Linked DNA regions of Homo sapiens: region 2 is linked to region 1. The links come from fine-mapping of genetic effects on gene expression. Tissue or cell type: whole blood. Region 1 holds a variant in brackets; the other region holds the start of a gene. All regions are shown on one strand. Distances are between the middles of the regions.

Region 1 (8,102 bases):
CCTGCCCATGGCCCATGCCACCAGAAACCAAAGCATGAGAGAAAAGACAGCCCAGGGACATGAGTCCCCTTGTTGCCACCAAAGCAGTTACACAAGAACAGGTGGCAGGGTCCTGGATGCCCATGGGAGCTTCCAGAAGGGAAGCACCAGGCTCACTTGTCTCTACCTGTCGTCCTTAGAACTATCACAGATGAAGTCTTAAGATCTGAACTCTAGGCTCTCCCCATGTATCAGGTGGACATCCTAGAAAAACTTTGGTTATTGTGCTCTGGGAAAGGATGGGGGGAAAAACCTTGTCCTGCTCAACACTTGCCTAACGAGACTGGCCACTAACTGCAATACTTTTGGAGAGTTCCCCTGCCCCTCATCACTCTCTGTAGGCTCAGCTGTACCCTCAGCTGCCTCTCCCTGCCTCCACATCCCCAAACTCTATAGTATGGTTTTCTTCTCTTATAGTATTCAGTTGTTAGCAACTGAGAAGGGGGCATCAACCACCCAAAAGCACCACCCCTCCCAGTCACTGCTCACTGGCAGATGGGCAGCACTTCTCCTTGATGCCCGGGTACTGACTTGTTTTCCCTGCCCACAAATATTTCTTGCCAAGGAAGGAAAGGAAATAAGGATCCCTTTTATAAGGCAGGCATTAGTGGTGCTGGGAGATTTGCTCAAATAGGGCTAGCCTGGTTCTTTTTCTTGTGTATTTGTTTTTTAGCCTCCCAAAGCAGGGAGAAAGCACCTAGTATTTGAGGAGGTATAAGTAAAGTGACAACATACACTCAGAAAGGCCAATAGGGCCCATGAGGCATGACCTAAGGAACACTGCACCCTTTCCCGTGTGCGGGTAAAGCACCCGCCTTACCTGATATGCCCTGATGAGCGACTGCACTGCCAGGTGGTCCTCCACGAGCTTGTCCACGTTGGGCTGTGCTTCTACCAGGGACTGTGCATGGGCCACAGCAGCCAGGGAGCCTCGGCTCAGGGGAAGGGGACTCTGGTAGGCAGTGCCCGGTGGGGCTCCGGCATTCGTGTTGCGAAAAAAAATGTCCCATGACTAAAGACAAAGAAGGTACAGGGTTACCTCACTGCTCCCCTAAGTCCAGGATGCATCTGTGGCCACAGAGAACTGCTCTCTGCAGGCAAGGCAAGTCTACCATAGGCTGGCTGAGCCTGCTTCCTCCTGGACAGTGGGGTCTCTGTCTGTTCCCAAACGGTGGGTTTCTCTCAGCATTCAGGCTCCCTGCTTTCCACAACTTTTGTCTTCGGGATGCACTTTCTGACCCCCACAGCTATAACACAGATGCCCTGTGGCCGCCTTCCATCAACACACATAACCCAAAGGCCCAATGCCAACAGCTCTCCTCAGTTCCTATTCACTGGGCCTGGGGACAGATTCAGGATGTAGGTCAACAGAGACACTTACTGTCTCAGCCTTCCCCCCGGCCCCAGCACCTGGGAGGTGATCTCTTGACCTTCTGTCTATAGGTCTGCAAACTCTACCAGTTTTTCTGTGGGATCAAACACCCCATCAAACACCTCCCTCAAGGCCCCAAGGGCTCAGCACAACCTGTGAAGAGCCCAGGGTCACCTTGCTCATGTCCTTTCACTTCCCTGGGAACAAAGTGGAACCTGATCCTTTGTAAGAGGCAGCACTAACCCCACAGAGAAATAATATCATTGCTACCTCAGGAGAAACTCAGGAGCTAAGAGCTCAAAGTGTGGGGTCAGAGATGGAAATTCAAATCTGATCTCTGTGTCAGGGATCAAAATTCAAATTCAAGAGGTAGGCTCTTAGTGAGTTACCTTTCTGTGCTGTTTTCTCATCTATGAGGAGAGAAATATATACATTCTTCATAGGTATGCTGTAAAGACTACCCTAGTTAAAGGCATTAGCACACAGTCTAATACTTCACAAAGTCAGGTGTTAGTTATCAGTTTGAATTTCCTTAGAAAAACTATAAACTAATTTACTTATATTCCTACTATTTTTGGCTATTCCATGTCTGAATTATTTGATTTACAATTTGCAGATACTGTGAACTGTAATGGTTTATTCATCTCATACAAAGATGCAAGTTTTTAAAATATTTAAGAGATCAGACATACTAAGACTTCACAAAAGTTCATTGTAAAAAGAAAAGAAAAGCACAATTAAACATCAGTTTATTTTAATTTTTTTGAGATGAAGTCTCGCTCTGTTGCCCAGGCAGTGTGGTGGCATGATCTTGGCTCACTGCAACCTCCACCTCCCGGGTTCAAGTGATTCTCCTGCCTCAGCCTCCTGAGCAGCGGGGATTACAGGAGCACGCCACCAGGCTTATAATTTTTGTATTTTTAGTAGAGATGGGGTTTTATCATGTTGGCCAGGCTGGTCTCAAACTCTTGACCTCAAGTGATCCACTTGCTTTGGCCTCCCAAAGTGTTGGGATTACAGGCGTAAGCCATCGCGCCTGGCAAAACATCAGTTTAAAAAAAAAATAGAAACATTGTTTTTCTTTTCTGCAATACCTTTTCCAGCCTCTAAAATTCTTCCATCAATAAACTCTGATAAGACTGTCTTGAAAAACTTGGAGAGGCAAGGCAAAACTTTATGAGATCTTTGCATTCTCCTTCTAACAAGATGCCACCCAGATGTGCTCCTTGTCTGGGACATGGCTGGATATCAAATGGGTCTGTCTGAGTCTGGAGACCAGAAGGTAGAGATGGCTACAGAATCCAGTATGCTGGTCCTTAAGGTCTTCTGTTTTTTTCAGACAGGTTCTTTTATAATGCTGGCTAGGGCACAGATGTACGTCACTCAGATGGTCCCACTACCAAGAGCACTGCTATATACTGCTGCTAGACACAAACTAGAAAAGACACAATGATAATGCACAGGCCTGGACCATCTGCCTCATGCAGGGGAGTCTGATCTCTCAGTGAAATCTGTTTTTGAGGGGAGTTTTGTGGAATACTTTTTTTTTCCTTCCCTTTTTCTTTTTTGTAGAATATTTAAAACATTCTATAATAAGCATGTATTTTTTGGTATTCAGAAAAAATAACTTAAAGAAAACAACCACCAGAGATGTGACTGCACAGTATTGTGAACATACTAAAAACCACTGTAGCTGGGTGTAGTAGCATGTGCCTGTAGTCCCAGTCACTTGGGAAGCAGAGGCAGGAGGATCACTTAAGCCTAGGAATTCAAGGCTGGCCTGGGCAATACAGCAAGAACCCATCTGTTAAAAACAAAACTCCACTGAATGGTACACTTAAAAAATGACTTTTTTTTTTTTTTTTTTTTTTTAAAGAAACAGGGTCTTGCTCTGTTGCCCAAACTGGTCTCAAACTCCCAGCCTCAAGCAATCCTCCTGCCTCAGTCTCCCAAAGTGATGGGAATCCAGTTGTGAGTCACCAGGACCAGGCCAAATAATTACATTTATGTTATGTGAATTATATTTAAAAATTTTTTTTTTTTTTGAGACAGAGTCTAGCTCTGTTGCCCAGGCTGGAGTGCAGTAGTGCAATCTCGGCTCATTGCAACCTCTGCCTCCTGGGTTCAAGCGATTCTCCTGCCTCAGCCTCCCGAGTAGCTGGGATTACAGGCGCCTGCCACCATGCCCAGCTAATTTTTGTATTTTTAGTAGAGACAGGGTTTCACTGTGTTGGCCAGGCTGGTCTCGAACTCCTGACCTTGTGATCCACCCGCCTTGGCCTCCCAAAGTGCTGGGATTACATGCGTAAGCCACTGCACCTGGCCTTTAAAATGTTTTTACAAATCAAACTATTTGAGGTTTTACGGTTTTTACCTTTCTGGTTAATTTCTGGTGTATTGTCTGATGTAGAAGACAGATTTGGGGTTCTCTTCTGGCACCTCCCACAAAACCTATTACAGAAGCATCTTATACAAATGTAACCCAACAATCAGGAACATGAAAAAAGGCTGCAAACTTTCCTTTTCTTTCTTTTTTATTTTTTGAGACAGGGTCTGGCTCTGCTGCCCAGGCTGGAGTAGACTGGCACGATCTTGGCTCAATGTAACCCCCACCTCCGGGGCTCAAGTGATTCTCCTGCTTCAGCCTCCTGAGTAGCTGGGACCACAGGCACGCACCACCACGCATGGCTAATTTTTTTACTAAATATTTTTTTGTGGAGATGAGGTTTCACCATGTTGCCCAAGTTGTTCTTGAACTTCTGAGCTCAACTGATCTGCCCGTCTCAGCCTCCCAAAGTGCAAGGATTATAGGCATGAGCCACCATCTGGGCCTAAACTTTCCTTTTCAACAGATGCTATCAAAATGTTTGCTAAAGAAACCCAGGGTTTGGAATCTCCAAAGAGATTCTCACCTTCCTCCATTAAATCGGTTCTCATGAAAACTCAGTGTTCTCCTCCAACATGAGAAAAGGCAGTATTTCCACCAGAGGAAAAAACTGACTTACTCTTAGGAGAGAAAACAGAGGATGTCTCAGCATCAACTCCCTAGGCAAAGTAAAGGCTGCCTCCCACTCAGTCCATGACTGGTTCTGTCAAGGACACAGGGATCTAAAAGGTGGCTGTGCACAAATACACTGGACACCCTCAGGTACTTCTGACTTCATGGAGCTTTTCCAGCAGGACTGA[G/C]AGCTCCATACATTCTAGAAGCAGAGATGACTGGGGACCACATGCATTGGACATCCATCTTCATTGTGAAAGCAGGGATGACCAATGACTGCACTTCTTGGCCTCTACCCAGGCCTCCAATAACTGAGGACCTGACCTAAAAGGAGAAACCCCTTGAATACAGCAGGAAACTGAGCAGGAGTCAGTCTGGCTGTATCCCACCCCTGCACAGCAAGAACCAACAGCAAGCTACCACTGTCACGTAAAACCTAATCAGGCCAGGCGCAGTGGCTCATGCCTGTAATCCCAGCACTTTGGGAGGCCAAGGTGGGTGGGTCACCTGAGATCAGGAGTTCGAGACCAGCCTGGCCAACATAGTGAAACCCCGTCTCTACTAAAAATACAAAAATTAGCTGGGTGTGGTGGTGCAGGCCTGTAGTCCCAGCTACTTGGGAGGCTGGGGCATGAGAATCGCTTGAACCTGGGAGGCAGAGGTTGCAGTGAGCTGAGATCGCACCATTGTATTCCAGCCTGGGCGACAGAGTGACACCCTGTTTCCAAAAAAAAAAAAAAAAAGAAAAAAAAAAAAAAAGAAGAAAAAGGCTGGGCTTGGTGGCTCATGCTTGTAATCCCAGCACTTTGGGAGGCTGAAGCGGGCGGATCACGAGGTTAGGAGATCGAGACCATCCTGGCTAACATGGTGAAACCCTGTCTCTACTAAAAAAAAAAAAAATACAAAAATTAGCTGGGGGTGGTGGTGTGTGCCTATAATCCCAGCTACTCAGGAGGCTGAGGCAGGACAATCACTTGAACCAGGGAGTCGGAGGTTGCAGTGAGCTGAGATCATGCCATTGCACTCCAGTTTGGCGACAGAGCGAGACTCTGTCTCAAAGAAAAAAAAAAAAACCCACAAAAAACCTAATCAAAATTTTTCTTTACCCCAAACTTGCTCCAGTGCTAGAATGTCTACCCTCACACCATGTGACCCGCACCCCAAGTCTAGCTGTAGACACTTACTTAGTTCCCTGGGGCCACAACAGGTTCATGGATAGGGCATGACCCTCAAACCCAGTAAGTACTGGAGAACAGCACAACCCAAACTTTATTAAACCCCTAAAACATTTTCTTCTATTTCGTAAAACCCATTAAGTGTCCAGAAACACAGGGCAAAGTCACCCAAGAGCAAGACCTTAGATCAAGAGTCTCTCCAGCTGTACAGACAGCCTCCTTTATCCTAGGGGACAATATTCACTTTTGGATCCAGAGCCAAAAGTCATAGCAAAATCACAAGTTTACTTCTTTTCAATAAAATTAGCTTTGAATAACAATTAAAATAGTAAAACAAAACAAAACAAAAAAAACCCACCAATAGCAGCAGGGATAGGTATAGCTAACTTTTACTGAGGCTCTCTGTGGGCTTTTCCAACTTACTTAGAGCACCTGGAATGTCAATCATATTCCCACTGGAGAGATGTGGGCTCAGGCAGAATTTACACACAGCAGTCACCAGGCAGGGTATTAATAAGGTTAACTGAGTAATAGCAGAGCGACGCTTAAAGAACTCTGGTCACTCTAGTAACAGTGCCTCTTACCCTAGCTTAACCTTGCCAAAGAGAGCTGGGCGCTTCTGGGCTCAACAATAAAATGAAAGGAATTTCCAGCCACTGATGCCTGGGATCACAAGGTCAGGGTCAAGGTCAGCTCTCTGGTCCTGAGCCACAAAGGCTGCAGGACTCCTTCCAGCCTAGGCCCTGGAGACAGGGCGATCATGATCATCGGGCCTCCACTCTCTGACCTTCTTTTGTGCTTGGAATACAACTCCAGGTGATTTTCAATTGGCTGAGGATAACTGCACAGACGGAAATTCAGCTCATGCTGGAGGCAGTCAGAAAAAAACTGGTTCATACCGGTACTGCTGAGCTGCTGGGAATCCCCGGGAAGGAAAATGCTGGGAATGCAACTTCTGCAGCCTTTCCCTTATTCATCTTACACCATGCATCCCACTTCACTCTCCAGTTGGCTCAGTTCCCACACCACTGGGGGAGCACCCTGCCCCACCTTCAGACAAAGAGCCCATTCTGTCTCCAGGACTGGGTGAGCCCCCACACCCAACAACAGCAAGCCCTCTTTGCGCCAAGACCTGGAGGTATACTAAAAGGTTTTTGAATTGAGTGATAGAATGTTTTGTATCGAGTGTAGTGACTGCACACATTTGGCAAAACCTACTGCACTAAACACTTAAAACAAGTGAATTTTAATATATGTAAGTTAAACCTCAAAAAAGTTTATTTATTCAAAAAGGCTTTGAAAATGAAGGTCATTATTTGGCCTGCAGGCTTCACCTCCCAACAGATGTGGCAGCAGGAAGCCAGACCTGCCCAAGTACCAGAGCTCCCAGGCACCCACTGGCCCCACCCCTCCCTGTATGAGTCACCAATGGGGCCACTTCCTTCCTGGTGGGGCCCAGATGCCACAGTCCATCCCCCACTCTCTTTCCACCTCCCTGTTGTCCTGCAACCCTGTATCTCTCTAACATCTTCCACTCCCCAAGGAGATACCTCTTCTCCAGCTCCTTAAACTACCCACCCCTGCCTCATCCTCTGAACACCTGAATCTGGATCTGCCTTCCATAACCCCTGGCTTTAGGTTCCAGGGGACCTGCAGAGCCCTCCCTGTCCACTTGCTCCCATGCCCCAGCATCATGCTCCTTCCTTCCCGCAGGCCTGGCAGCTACCCTTCTTTCCATGGGATGTTTGTCCTCTCCCTTCACATGGTCGCTTAGCTTTGTCACTATCTGGGAGAGCGTTTCCCCTTCTGATACTCCCAGCCCTTACTGTACACTCATCTCAACCTGAGATCTCTCCCCTGCTGTCTGTCCCCATCCTGGGGGATAAATCAAGACTAGGCTGAGTCATTGACCACCCAGCGCAAACAGAAGCCCCTTCAAAAAGAAGAGAAAGCTTCTGGAAGAGAGAGTCAAAGCATGTCCCATCTAATTCCCATGGAGCATGAAGAGACACCTGGAAGGGATAGAAGCCCACTCACTGAAAGGTGGCACCTGGTGGCTGATGGCTCACTGAGAACCTGAGCTGAGTCAGGCGACCTCAGCTCTCTTACTGAGTGAGAAAAATAAGCCTGTTGGTTTAGGCTGCCTAAGCTGCATTTTCCCTTTCTTCCAGCCAAATTTATTCCTAATTATCCCTTGCTGTTGCCTGGATGTCCCGGAATTGCAGTCTGATGTAGGCAGGGGCAGTGACTTCTACTTCTAGAAACATTCCAAGTGACAAAGCAGAAGTGAAAAGGAGAAAGCACAGTAATGGGGAAAATCAGACTTGAGAATACACAATCTAATAGCATGCTACCATCAAACACACTGAAGACCTAAGTTTCCTATAATAGAAACAGTTTTTCACTCATGAGAAATGGAGGCAGTCAGACTTTGGTTTCTTTATGAAGTAAGTGTGGTATTTGGGCCTTACTTTAGTACTTGGCTCAGGGCGGTGACAGGGACTTCTGAGTCACAATG
Region 2 (8,102 bases), 69 kb after region 1:
AGTGCTGGGATTACAGGTGTGAGCTGGCCGGGCACAGGTGATGGGGTCTTGCTCTGTCCCCAAGGCTGGAGTGCAGTGGTGCCATCACAGCTCAAAGCAACCTTGAGCTCCCAGGTTCAAGTGATCCTCCTACCTTACCCTCCCAAGTAGCTGGTACTACAGGTATACTCCACTGTGCCTGGCTATTTTTACTCTTAAAAATACATGTGGGCTGGGCACGGTGGCTCACGCCTGTAATCCTAGCACTTTGGGAAGCCAAGGTGGGTGGATCCCTATAGCCCAGGAGTTCGAGACCAGCCTGGGCAACATGGCGAAATCTTGTCTCTGCAAAAAATACAAAAAATTTAGCTGGTGGCACATGCCTATAGTCCCAGCTACTTGAGAGGCTGAGGTGGAAAGATCACTTGAGCCCGGGAGGTCAAGGCTGCGGTGAGCCATGATCGTGCCACTGCACTCCAGTCTGGGCAACAGTGATCCCATCTGAAAAAAAAAAACAAAAAAAAAAATGCAATTTAGGGCCAGGTGGGGTGGCTCACGCCTATAATCCCAGCACTTTGGGAGGCCAAGGCAGGGGGATCGCCTGAGGTCAGCAGTTTGAGACCAGGCTGGCCAACATGGTGAAAACCCCTCTCTACTAAAAGTATAAAAATTAGCCAGGCATGGTAGTGTGTGCCTGTAATCCCAGCTATTCAGGAAGCTAAGGCAGGAGAATCGCTTGAACCCGGGAGGAGGTTGCAGTGAGCAGAAATCGAGCCACTGCACTCCAGCCTGGGGGGCAGAGGGAGACTCTGTCTCAGAAAAAAAAAAAAAAATGCAATTTAGTTCTCTAGGCTTTTCCATTTAATAGTTTTATATCCTCCTGTTTCTAAATCTGGATGACAGTGTAACACTCCAGTAAGGTGAATTGTGAATTGCTGAAATTCTTCAGATGTTTAAAAGAGTTTTCAGTATTCCTCATGTTAGAATTAATGCAGAGAAAAATTTTATCCTTTGAACTAGTTACATGTTGTGGACTTCTGGCCTGAGGCTCTTGGGGATTATGTGACATATTGGGAAGGGACACATTTCTGCTCTGTGGCTGTTACTAGAAATCTAGCCAGCAAATCAGACTACGTTTGTGAGAAGACAGGAAGGCACAGATTAGGGTTGAGCCAGCCTTCAACAGGTTTGGCTGGCAGTAGACACAGTGGAGCACATCTTAACTATTTTGGTAGGTCCTGGGTTTCTCTTGGTAGTTTTTGATAGAAAGGGGAATGGTGTGAGGAAAAAGTGGGCATACATTTCACCTTTCCACTGATAAGGCAGGTGGAATTGGGATAGTCAGTGGATGGGCCAATAGCTGGTGGCTGTGAGAAGAATAAGGATTTCCATACTGGTGTGTCATATTTACAGATAGGTTGTGACCTAAAAAGTTTTTTAAAAAACAGCAGTTAGGGCCTGGGCGCGGTGGCTCACGCCTGTAATCCCAGCACTTTGGGAGGCCGAGGCGGGCGGATCACAAGGTCAGGAGATCGAGACCATCCTGGCTAACAACGGTGAAACCCTGTCTCTACTAAAAATACAAAAAATTAGCCGGGCGTGGTGGCAGGTGCCTGTAGTCCCAGCTACTCGGGAGGCTGAGGCAAGAGAATGGCGTGAACTCGGGAGGTGGAGCTTGCAGTGAGCTGAGATCATGCCACTGCACTCCAGCCTGGGCGACAGAGTGAGACTCCTTCTAAAAAACAAAAACAAAACCAAAACAGTAGTTAGGGTACACACACACAAATTCTAGTGATTTTCCCCCCAATACTACCCTTGACTTTTGAAATTCTTGCTTTCTCAGAGTTTACAACATCCTTACCAAACAGCCTTCTCCCTCCTTACCACAAAAAAAGAAAAAAAAGTTCTGGGGTTGAGGGGACACTCCATTCTTAACATCCTCTATTATCCCAGCCCAATTCCCCAGCTCTCACTGGGACTAGTTGTACCTATCTTCATCATTTGGTCCCAGCATGACTACCTGTTGGTGCATGAGCTGATCTCTCCTAACCTAACAGCCAGATGCTAGTCTCTGGTACTCAGATGCTGGGCTGCATCAGATAGGATGCACAGGATCATCCTGGAAGCTTGTTGACATAGATTCCTGTGCAACACTCAGATATAGTCTTAATGTAGATTTGTGTTGGGTGGTATGGTAGGTAGAATAATGGCCTACCACTCTGAAACATATGAATATGTTACCTAACATGACAGAAGAGAATTAAGTTGCTAATCAGATGACTGTAAAATAAATTATCCTGGATCATCTGGATGGGCCTAATGTAATCACAAAGGTTGTTTCCTTGCCTTTTCCAGCTTGGCTCTGGCTCCCTTCCTCCAGCAAGGGTGGGTTGAGCTCTCACATGGCACCACTTTGACCTCTTCTGCTTCCCTCTTCTACACTGAAAGACTTATGGGCCAGGAGCAGTGGCTCGCACCTGCAATCCCAGCACTTTGGGAGGCCGAGGAAGGCAGATCGCTTGGCCCCAGGAGTTCAAAACCGTCCTGGGCAACGTGGCGAAACCCCATCTAGAAAGAAAAGAAGAGAAGGGGAGGGGGGAGGGGAGGAGGAGTTACATATATACACATACACACACACACACACGTACGTACATACATACATACACGCTAACTGGACGTGGTGGTGCGTGCCTGTAGTCTTAGCTTTCCAGGAGACTGAGGTGGGAGGACCACTTGAGCCTGAGATCGCGCCAGCCTGGGTGACAGTCAGACCATGTCTCAAAAAAAAAAAAAGATTTGTGATTAGGATTCTTAGTCCTCACCTGTATTATTTTCCTATTGCTACTGTAACAAATTACCACAAATTTACTGGCTTAAAACGACGCAAGTCTGTAGGTCAGAAGTCTGACACGGGTCTTAACTGGTGACCCGAGTCAGATTTGGGACACAAAGAACAGAAACCAAGCTGTGCAGGTTTCTGACAGGCAGTCCGGTTAGGGAGCCCTACAGCAACCCGCCGGTCCTCTCTCTCAGGCAGTTGCTGCCATGGCTCATTATTCCAACCGGTTCTCCTCAGCCCAGTCTATCTCAGTGGCTCCATTCATAGGGTGATGTGCCCGGCGGGACACTAACCCTAACCAAGCAGAGAGACGGTCATGCCCGTCACGACCTCGGCCCTCGCCCCGGCCGAGGCTTCTCCTGCAGGTCGCGAGAATCAGGTGCGTCAGCGGCGTCCGGGAACGCCGGAAGAGCCAGTGGAGCGGCTCTGTAGTCCAAAGTACCCCGTCGACCCCAGCACGGCCGCTCCACCGCCTCCTACTAGACCCAGTCCTAGGGACTGCGCAGTCGCAGAGCTCCGTCCGAGTACCGGAAGCCTAGGCCGCCAGCACTTCCGGGAAGTGACTTCGTCTCCGAAGCCGATTGGTTGTTGCTTTGCTCCCGCTCGCGTCGGTGGCGTTTTTCCTGCAGCGCGTGCGTGCTGCGCTACTGAGCAGCGCCATGGAGGACTCTGAAGCACTGGGCTTCGAACACATGGGCCTCGATCCCCGGCTCCTTCAGGTACACGCGAGGGCTGGGGAGCCGGCTTACGGGCTCTGCGGGGCGCGCCATCGCTCTTCACGCCGCTTAAACCGCACTCCTGGTCTCCTAGGCTGTCACCGATCTGGGCTGGTCGCGACCTACGCTGATCCAGGAGAAGGCCATCCCACTGGCCCTAGAAGGGAAGGACCTCCTGGCTCGGGCCCGCACGGGCTCCGGGAAGACGGCCGCTTATGCTATTCCGATGCTGCAGCTGTTGCTCCATAGGAAGGCGGTGGGTAACGAGAGAGCTGAGGGGAGGAAGGAGGCAAGCTCCAAAAGCCTGGGAAGGGCGGTTCCCGTTTGTCTGAGGTTTTCTCTTGGCCCTGTACCCGTGCAGGCCGGCCTGAGAACCTGGTGCTGTTGTGGCAAACACTCTGGGCTGGAGTTCAGGTTACCTGGATCCTTGTCCGGCCCTGCTACCACCAACCTTTGCGTAATCTTCGACAAAGCACTTTCTTTTCTTTCTTACATAAAAAGGGAGCACATCTATCTTTTCTACTTACAGAATTATTGTGAGAATTTAGCTTCATAACTAGTATATTTAAAGTAGCTTCATAAACATCAGAGTACGTTATTCTTTTTGAGGGTCAGTGCCTGGGGAAAGAACTCTCCACTCTGCATTCTGAGGCGGGCAGAGTGATAGATGATCAAAGTACTGCTAAGTAGTGTTGCAGCAGATGGGTCAGGTAGGCTGGAAGGGGTAGAGACACGTGGACACAGTGATGTGCACTGCTGGCTAAAGTCTTTAATTCATATTCTTACAGACAGGTCCGGTGGTAGAACAGGCAGTGAGAGGCCTTGTTCTTGTTCCTACCAAGGAGCTGGCACGGCAAGCACAGTCCATGATTCAGCAGCTGGCTACCTACTGTGCTCGGGATGTCCGAGTGGCCAATGTCTCAGCTGCTGAAGACTCAGTCTCTCAGAGGTGGGTAAAAGCAGCAAAGCTGTACCTGAATGAAGCTACACAGTGTTGTGGGGTTGGGTTTGTGTGTGGCAAAAAAGAGAGCAAATCCAGGGTGAGATCCCAGCTGCTACATTCTGCCTGATACTGATGTCTTGTCCACCTCCAGAGCTGTGCTGATGGAGAAGCCAGATGTGGTAGTAGGGACCCCATCTCGCATATTAAGCCACTTGCAGCAAGACAGCCTGAAACTTCGTGACTCCCTGGAGCTTTTGGTGGTGGACGAAGCTGACCTTCTTTTTTCCTTTGGCTTTGAAGAAGAGCTCAAGAGTCTCCTCTGGTAAGGCAGAGGTGGGTGTGATTCCTAGTGGAAACATCTGTGAGTAGGAGTTGGGACGAGAGCGGGGTGGCTGGAAGCCAGTTACTACAATTAGCGGCCCTTGGAGCTGGAATCTGATTGGATTCTTTCATTTCAGTCACTTGCCCCGGATTTACCAGGCTTTTCTCATGTCAGCTACTTTTAACGAGGACGTACAAGCACTCAAGGAGCTGATATTACATAACCCGGTAAGAGGCACCATGGAAGTGTCTGGAGCTGCAGACATGGGGGCACTCAAAGATCTTGATGCTCCTTCTTAGGGGATTCTTTGGTGTTTTGGGTGGGACAGTTGTCACTTAGTGTCTCATCCCTGGTCCTGAGGCACTAAAAGCCAGTGGTCTAAAATCACTATATATTTCCAAGTGTCCACAAGGGATGTCTCCCATTTCAGGCCATGCTTTGCCTAAAATCCTGAGCAAGGACCTCCCCTAAGGGGCAGCTTTGAGCAGCAGAGCCAAAATTCTAAGGCCAAGGTTCTCATCTTAAGTAAACTTTACCTTTCAGAAGGCCTGTTGCTGTAGGCCTTCCCTTCTCAATGTAGTCCTTTATTGATGTGTTTCTCTTTGTTCTGTGCTTGGAAGTATTTTATATATGGTTTATATGGTATACTCTATATACCACAACAATAAGGGCATTTTGGGGTTTTAGGTTACAAAACTGGAGGAGAGTTAGGGTGCCAGGAATCCTTAAATGCATCTCTGCCCTGCACTAAAATGTTGATGCTTTGGTTGGTGAGTAAGTGGCCATACATCTCTGTGTTCTTTTCCTTTCTGACCACAGGCCTGTTTTCTCCCCCAGGTTACCCTTAAGTTACAGGAGTCCCAGCTGCCTGGGCCAGACCAGTTACAGCAGTTTCAGGTGGTCTGTGAGACTGAGGAAGACAAATTCCTCCTGCTGTATGCCCTGCTCAAGCTGTCATTGATTCGGGGCAAGTCTCTGCTCTTTGTCAACACTCTAGAACGGAGTTACCGGCTACGCCTGTTCTTGGAACAGTTCAGCATCCCCACCTGTGTGCTCAATGGAGAGCTTCCACTGCGCTCCAGGTCTGCCACAGCCAACATCTTGGTTGAAATAAGTTGAAGATAGAGATGGAAAGGGGACCCAGTTAATGTTCTGTTTCTTAAGCACTTAGTAGGGGCCAGGTTCTAGATGTGACTGATACTGACTTCTCCCAACTCCAAAATACCTATCATGGCCGGGCACCATGGCTTATGCCTGCTGTAATCTCAGCACTTTGGGAGGCCGAGGTGGGCGGATCGCCTGAGGTCGGGAGTTCAAGACCAGCCTGGCCAGCATGGTGAAACCCCGTCTCTACTAAAAATACAAAAATTAGCTGGACATGGTGGCAGGCACCTGTAATCCCAGCTACTCAGGAAGCTGAGATAGGAGAATTGCTTGAGCCCGGGAGGTGGAGGTTGCAGTGAGCCAAGATCGTGCCATTGCACTCCAGCCTGGGCAACAGGAGTGAAACTCTGTCTCAAAAAAACAAAACCCTATAATTATTTCCAGCTGAGGAAACTGAGGCACAATGATTAAGTAGGGAAAGAGATTAAGAAGAGGAAAAAGGAAAGGGTGATGGTTACTGTGATACTAGGGATGGCAGAGGGGCCTTGAGCTTGCTCTGCTGAGCTGATTCTCTGTCCGCTCTTGGCTGCAGGTGCCACATCATCTCACAGTTCAACCAAGGCTTCTACGACTGTGTCATAGCAACTGATGCTGAAGTCCTGGGGGCCCCAGTCAAGGGCAAGCGTCGGGGCCGAGGGCCCAAAGGGGACAAGTGAGTCCATGCCTCTTTTTCCATCCCTCCCCAGAAATGCCTGTGTTTTTAGCTTTTTGGAAGACTAAAACCAGAGTGCACAGAGCAGGGAGCCAAACCTTCCAGGCCTGGCTGGTAGTGTAGCCCAGAGAGCCCCACAGGTTCTTGCTCAGCTGCCTGGATATAGAGAAGGGAGTGGATGGTGCACACTGCACATGCACCACGAAGGGCAAAACTGCCGGGGTTGTTGGCATGCAGAGCCCTGCAGGGGAGATGGCCCATCCTGCATTGGTGGTATGGCTGTGACTTGCAGGGAGCATATTTCTGAAGGGAAAAGGAACCCCCCAACTCTCCAGTCTCTGTCCAGCTGAAGGCTTGACTAGCTCAGAGTTGGTTTTCAGATCACCATGTAGGGCAATGAGTTCTGCTGTTGTCCCAGAACAGAGGTCAGGCCGAGATTTGGGTACATGTCAAAGCTCCAGGCTGCCCCAGGAAACCCTGACTCCTGGAACGGTTCCATTGTTGGAGAGTCCTCTGTATGTCAGGGTCTTATGATCTACAGGCATTTAGAGGAAGTTTTGCTGATTCAGCGTGTGAATACGTGCCCAGAGGAGAGGAAGGGTCCGGCTGACATTGAGTTATCTCTGCAGGGCCTCTGATCCGGAAGCAGGTGTGGCCCGGGGCATAGACTTCCACCATGTGTCTGCTGTGCTCAACTTTGATCTTCCCCCAACCCCTGAGGCCTACATCCATCGAGCTGGCAGGTAGTAGTGTGACGGCCCAGGCATCTGCATGGTAGGCACACTGAGGGACTTGGGGTGTGCTGGACAGAGCCTGCGGGTTGGAGATGCAAGCTGCACTGTCTTCCCTTGCAGGACAGCACGCGCTAACAACCCAGGCATAGTCTTAACCTTTGTGCTTCCCACGGAGCAGTTCCACTTAGGCAAGATTGAGGAGCTTCTCAGTGGAGGTAAGAGCCTGGCTCTTGTGGTCCTGGGCCAGGGTCAGGCTTCTTCCACAATGCTTTAAAACTCCATGATAATGATGACAGAGGTCACAACATAGTGTGACAGGCCACTTCCACCATCCATCCTTGTTCTGCCCTGAGTGGCAGGCACTGTCCCCCTTGAGAGATAAACAAATTGAGGTAATTTGTCCAAAGTTGTGTTTACTGTCTGCCTCATGAGCGTTGAGTGACCTGACAGGCTGCTGTGACAGCTCAGGACAGCACCTGACCCCAGGGTGCTGGGTGGTCCTGGACTGCTCTCTGTGGCCGTCGTCATGGGGGTACCTTGACTCCCAAGGAATACCATGGGGTACTCCTTGGGAGAGGAGAAGAGAGTGGGTGACGGGTTCTTGGGCTTGGGGCCACACAGGCCACCCCCATCCACACACGGGGACAGATGGGTCATCACTGTAAGAGGCCCAGGTGCAGCTAACCTGCATGTTCGGCATCCCAGGAAGGCGGTGGGTCCCCTGCTGCTTTCCCCCAAGGGGGAGGTGCAGGA

The links. PIP is the estimated chance that this variant, and not a neighbour inherited with it, causes the effect.
Region 2: it holds the start of DDX56, and the variant in region 1 is fine-mapped to the expression of DDX56 in whole blood (TOPMed, PIP 0.96).

Annotation. Positions count from the first base shown.
Region 1 is chr7:44,638,276-44,646,377 of GRCh38, reverse strand. OGDH (oxoglutarate dehydrogenase) reads right to left here. Exons shown (of 23, transcript NM_002541.4): 3 at 860-1,051. Among named protein-coding and RNA genes, the nearest start is that of OGDH, 36 kb to the right of the region's middle. RefSeq lists enhancers at 438-938, 6,405-6,932, 7,247-7,396, 7,461-7,988, 7,877-7,996 and 1 more. The variant G/C (reference allele first, on the strand shown) is at 4,598.
Region 2 is chr7:44,569,271-44,577,372 of GRCh38, reverse strand. DDX56 (DEAD-box helicase 56) reads left to right here and starts at 3,465. Exons shown (of 14, transcript NM_019082.4): 1 at 3,465-3,537; 2 at 3,629-3,790; 3 at 4,323-4,483; 4 at 4,629-4,799; 5 at 4,936-5,026; 6 at 5,637-5,881; 7 at 6,496-6,615; 8 at 7,245-7,358; 9 at 7,470-7,564. The coding sequence starts at 3,478. RefSeq lists an enhancer at 3,699-3,848.